2 separate regions of the Homo sapiens genome follow, and region 1 is linked to region 2. Evidence: fine-mapped expression QTL. A gene starts in region 2. The other region holds a variant in brackets. All regions are shown on one strand. Distances are between the middles of the regions. Region 1 has its middle 74 kb from the start of UXT. Region 2 holds the start of ELK1 (ETS transcription factor ELK1).

What was found. PIP is the estimated chance that this variant, and not a neighbour inherited with it, causes the effect. A credible set is the group of variants that fine-mapping cannot tell apart.
Region 1: its variant is the best candidate, but not a certain one, in a credible set for the expression of ELK1 in whole blood (TOPMed, PIP 0.50).

What each region holds. Positions count from the first base shown.
Region 1 is chrX:47,731,335-47,734,245 of GRCh38, reverse strand. It overlaps the pseudogene CXXC1P1. Among named protein-coding and RNA genes, the nearest start is that of UXT, 74 kb to the right of the region's middle. The variant C/T (reference allele first, on the strand shown) is at 1,494.
Region 2 is chrX:47,649,093-47,652,003 of GRCh38, reverse strand. It overlaps ELK1 (ETS transcription factor ELK1), which reads left to right and starts at 1,441. Exons shown (of 7, transcript NM_001114123.3): 1 at 1,441-1,581; 2 at 1,978-2,083. It overlaps UXT (ubiquitously expressed prefoldin like chaperone), which reads left to right. Exons shown (of 7, transcript NM_004182.4): 7 at 109-208. The coding sequence ends at 162. RefSeq lists a silencer at 1,257-1,666 and a cis regulatory region at 998-1,978.

The DNA.
Region 1 (2,911 bases), 82 kb before region 2:
TAATCCCAATTACTCGGGAGGCTGAGGCACGAGAATCAGGAGGTTAGAAACCCGGGAGGTGGAGTTTGCAGTGAGCCCAGATCATGCCACTGCACTCCAGCCTGGGAGACAGAGTGAGGCAAAAGTAATAATAAATAAATAAATTAATTAATTAATTAATAAAAACTAAGGACAAATGCTGGACTACAATCATGGGAAAAGCATGGATTTTTTACTTGAACTAATGGATCACCACTAAGGGATTCTATATACAGGAAATAAATATAAACTAACTTTTGTATCTTGAAAGAATAAATTCCACGTTACCGTTGTATTTTGTACTTCAGGATAACATGTTAAAAATAGAGACTTTTTTTTTTTTTTGAGGAACCGACCACGAGCAGGGCCATCACACAGAGTTTTAAGTCCAGACTGAAAACACATATTGTATGATCCAATATTCCTTTAATTTTGAACTATTTAAGGCATAAGAAGTGTCAAAAGGCTCCAGAGGAATATAAAAATGTAGGATAGTTTGTACCTAGATGAAACAAGATAATTAGAGAGGTGTGCACATGAAGAACCCGATGGGCTGAGTTCTGCACTGGCCCTGTGCCTTTGACTTATTTGGAAGACAGCTCTAAATCAGTGGTTCTCAACATTGAGCGTGTATCAGAATCACCCAGAGGGCTTGTCAGCACACAGACTGCTGAGCCTCACACCCAAAAGTTAGATATTCCGTAGGTCTGGCATAGGGTCCAAGAATTTGCATCTCTAACAATATCTCAGGTGCTGTTGGTGGTGGTCCAGGGAACACACTGGAAGAACCACTGCTCCAGAAGATGGCCATGGCAAACTCTATTGCGCATTTATCATTAGGTTGACCACCTGTCCAGTTTACACCTGCTGTTCCAGCATGATTATTAATGATACCTCTTTCACTTTCCAAAGTTTCTGAATTTGGATGATAAAGTATAAGGTCACCTCACCTATAATCCATAATGAGATCAAAAAGGGGTTTTGGAGCCGAGCACAGTGGCTCATGCCTGTAATCCCAGCACTTTGGGAGGCCAAGGCCAGTGGATCACTTGAGGTCAGAAGTTCGAGACCAGCCTGGCCAACATGGTGAAACCCTGTCTCTACAAAAAAATACAAAAATTAGCTGGGTGTGGTGGTGCATGCCTGTAATCCCAGCTACTTGGGAGGCTGAGGCTGGAGAATCCCTTGAGCCCAGGAGGCAGAGTTTGCAGTGAGCTGAGATGGTGCCACTGCACTGCAGCCTGGGTGATAGAGCGAGACTCTGTCTCTAATAAATAAATAAATAATACAAAAATTAGCCAGGCATGGTGGCACGTGCCTGTAATCCCGGCTAGTCAGGAGGCTGAGGCTGGAGAATCGCTTGAGCCTGGGAGGCGGAGTTTGCAGTGAGCCGAGATCGAGCCACTGCACTCCAGCCTGGACAACAGAGCAGGACTCTGTCTCAAAAATAAGGGGGGCGGGAGATGGTTTACATT[C/T]AATTATCAGGAAATCTTTACCCTGGAAAATGTTTTCTTCACCCTTGTAGTCATTTTTCTCCCTGAGGCCAAGGTAAATCCTACAAATAACTGCATTTTCTTTCCAGCTATGTCTGATAGGAAGCTCAGAAGGAAACTGGCAGTTTAATTTTACTCTGCAGAACCCTAGGGCCCAAATGCCTACAGCCCAAATCAATTCTGGTCCTGACTTCATCCATTCTTTCTATATTTTCTCTGATCTAATTTTTATGGAGCTATACTTGTACATTTTACTACAGGGATTCTTAAAAGCTCACAAAAGCTGCTGAACTGCAACGGGTGCAACAAATACATGAATTAACGATAACTCATGAGAAACGTGGTTATTTCCTGACTTTCTTGGGTAGGGACATAGGTCTGTGAAGTCAAGGTTGTGTTGCTCAGATTAAGCAGGCTGGAAATCTCCACACTTCCGCTGGACAAGAGGCTGCACCCCATGGAAAGCCAGAGAACTCCATGCCTCTGTGATCACAAGCTGCATATGTGTGACTGATTTGATCATGTGGCATTTGGAAAAAGGCAGATTTCTCATTGGGACTAAGTGTGCAATTGTCCCCTCCCAATTCATTTATTATTATTATTATTATTATTATTATTATTATTATTATTATTATTATGTGAGACACAGTTTCGCTCTGTCGCCCAGGCTGGAGTGCAGTGGCGCAGCTTACTGCAACCTCCACCTCCCGGGTTCCAGCAATTCTCATGCCTCAGCCTCTGGAGTAGCTGGGATTACAGGTGTGCGCCACCATGCCCGGCTAATTTTTGTATTTTTATTTATTTTTGAGACAGAGTCTCGTTCTGTCACACAGGCTGGCGTGCAGTGGCACGATCTCAGCTCACTGCAACCTCCGCCTCCCTGGTGCCAGTGATTCTAGTGTCTCAGCCTCCGAAGTAGCTGGGATTATAGGCGCGTGCCACCATGCCTGGCTAATTTTTGTATTTTTATTTATTTATTGAGACAAGAGTCTTGCTCTGTCGCCCAGGCTGGAGTGCAGTGGCGCGATCTGGGCTCACTGCAACCTCTGCCTCCCGGGGTCCAGAGATTCTCCAGCCTCAGCCTCTCAAGTAGCTGGGATTATAGGTGTGTGCCGCCAAGCCCAGCTAATTTTTGCATTTTTAGTAGAGACATGGTTTCACCATGTTGACCAGGCTGGTCTGCAACTCCTGACCTCAACTGATCCACCCACCTCTGCCTCTCAAAGTGCTGAGGTTACAGGCATGAGCACAGCGCCCAGCCCATTTATTATTAACACCTGTCCTTACACCCTGACCCAAGAGTACAATTTCTAAAACTATATCTGTAGAAAATAATCATGTATGTGCACAAAGATTTAAATGTAGGAATTTTACCACGGCGATGTTCATAACAGTTAAAA
Region 2 (2,911 bases):
AGGACCATCTTTCCCTCTAAACTGGAGTCAAGGGAGGGAGGTCAGAGCAAGCCTGGGGGCGTAACCCAGACCCAGTCTTTGTTCAATCTCTTCTGTCCTCTTTTTCAGGGGCTTAGAGAACTACAAGGCCTGCAGAATTTCCCAGAGAAGCCTCACCATTGACTTCTTCCCCCCATCCTCAGACATTAAAGAGCCTGAATGCCTTTGAGTCACATGGCCCTTCTTTTTCCCCATAAACCCTGCTAGTTGCCACGGGGGCCTGTTCCTAGGGCACAAAGTTACTGAGAGACCCAGAGATCCAGTCTCTCTGTGGAACCTCCAAAATGCCCCAGCAGTCCTGCCTCCAGCCTGTTGCCTGGCAGTATTTGCCAGTTGACCTTATGCACTGCCCTCTCTTCTGTCATCTTGGCAACCTGGGCCCCCCACCTCACCCTTTCTTCCATTCCTTTTCCTAGACGCCACCCTTTGAATTGCCATAGAGAATGGGCCAATTCATGGTGGAGGTTTGTTCATTCCCACAACAATCAAAGGGCCCTAAGGTTTACGCTTTCACACACCCAATCATTCCCCAGGTACCCCAAATTACACCCAAACCCTAACTCAGCCCTACCTTGTCTTAGCCCCTGCTTGTAAGTGTTCCAGCTTCCAATGGGCACAGACCTGGATCCCGCTCTCCCTAGTCGGGCCCCTATTCTAGGTTGAGTCCAGCCACCGCCAATCAATGCAGAGCCAGGTTCCTCCCCTTTTTAACTCTGGCCGCAGTTCAACCCTGCCCTCTGAAAGCATTTCGTTTCTGCCACTCAATGCTCTTTCGTGTGCCTGACAGCCATCCTGCCCTCCTACCTCCGCTGTGTTCTAAATTCGTCTTTACCCAGCTCTATGGTCTTGTCTAACCGTAGAGCTGCCCTGCCCGCCTACGCGGAGCCCAGTCCGACCCACTCCCGCCGGCTGCTACGCCCATTTCTATACAAGCCCTGCTTCCGCTGAGCAGCATGGCGTGCGACACCGCCCCCTTGGTGTTTTGGCAGGGGTCTAGAAGTCCCTCGTCCGCCAATCAGAGAAAAACAGGGCCACCCACCCCCGTCCTTGGGGGCTGTCTTCCATCAATCCCATGTAAGCCAATCAGTGTGAGGCAGACCCCCGCCCCCCCGACACAGGCCCCGAGCCTTTTCAGTTGCTCACAGTCCGTCAGTCCTTGAGCCAATCGGCGTGGAGCACCGTGAAGGCCGAACGCGCCTCCTCGGGACTCCAGGGGCCGTGAGCGTTCCATCATTTCCCCTTACGCCAATCACGGCACAGCTCTGTAGGGAAGGGCCCGTCCCCCAACCCCTCGAGGCCTTGCGGCCGATTAATAGCGCTTTGGCCAATCAGCGAGCGGCGGGACATTGGGCTCCTCCTCCTCGGGCCCACGTGAGCTGTAGGGAAACGCAGGGGCGGCTTCTAGGTGCTGCCGCCGCCACCGCCACCACCACCTCCACCGCCGCCTCGGAACCCAGGCCTGGGGGGCGGTGGGGCCGCGTATGGAGCCCCCGCCCCCCGGAGCTGCCAACATTGCCAACGCCACCGCCACGCTACACACAGGTGAGCTCTGGGCCTGGAGGGTGGAGGGCCCAGTCCGTGACCCCACGTATCCTTCCCGCCCCCGCGCAGAGGATGTGGCTTGGCCGGTGGCCTGCTGGTGTTCGACTCCCCGCCGCCACCACCACGGCTGGTGGACCTGCGTGTGGCATTGCTCAAGCCCTTCGTCCCTTATAGTGGATCTGACCGTGGCCTAACCTCCCCCTCCCGTTGTATAATGGATCGGTCTGCGTGCTTATGTTTTTCCCCACGCCAACTTAGGGTGGACTCGTCCATAGGCTTTCCCCCTACCCCTACCCCCACCCGCCCCCCACCCACCCCCACTTATAGGGAGCTAGCCTGTGACAGTGTTCAGCCCCCTTAATAGTAGGTGTATCTGAGTGTTTGGATTTCTCCTAGCCTCAACTTTCAGGAGACCCGTCCGTGGCCTTATTTATTCCACCCTTCCTGTACATCGTAGCGAATCAATCCGTGGCGCCGCACTCCTCCGCATCCCTCTTTAACAGTGAGTCTACCTGAGTTTGTATTCCTGCCTCCTCCAGTCCCCCAATGCATCAGTCCATGGCTTTTTTCAAAACCACCCCCCCCCCCCACCACCACCACCACCATTTTATAGTGGATCAGTCTTCATGTTTGGATTCACGTCCCTTTAGCTATCAGTCCATTGCCCTGTCTCCTCTTTTTCGTAGACTGTCGCTCTAGCGCTTGGGGTTCTCTCCTTTTTAATAGTGGGTTAGTTTAGTGCTTTACATCTCCCTATTTTCAGTAGCTCAGTCCATAGCCTTTTCCCTCTCTGCTTTGAATCAGTCTGTGTGATGGCTTTTCTCTCCTCTCACTGTGGTGCAGGAGTCTGTAAGGTTTTCTGCTCCCCTTCCCCTCAGACGATGAGCCTCATCACCCCTCCCTTTGCAGTGGATCTGTTCATTGGCCTTCCTCCCCCACACCCCTGTATGCTTGCACAGTCCCCCGCATACCCTCCCGTGAGTCCAGTGCTTTGTAATTGGGGGAAGATCGGCCGTGTACTTTCAATTTCCTTCTCTTTTTTTTTCCCTTCCCAGAAGAGAACGTGCTGATCCTCTTTTCCTTGTGATGGAGCACTGTACGGCCTTCCCTGTCCTCCACCTCTTAATAGTGGGTCAGCCTGGTCACACTCGTAACCACAAAGACGTTCTGCCTCACTACAATAAGTGAATACATTAGCGCCAGTGATGATAGTAATGCCAATAGGAGCTAGCGTTTATTGAGCACCTGCCGTATATCAGGCAGAGTGTTTCATATGAATGAGTTCCTTTAATCCTCACCACAACCCCATGAGATAGGTAGTGAGGGAATT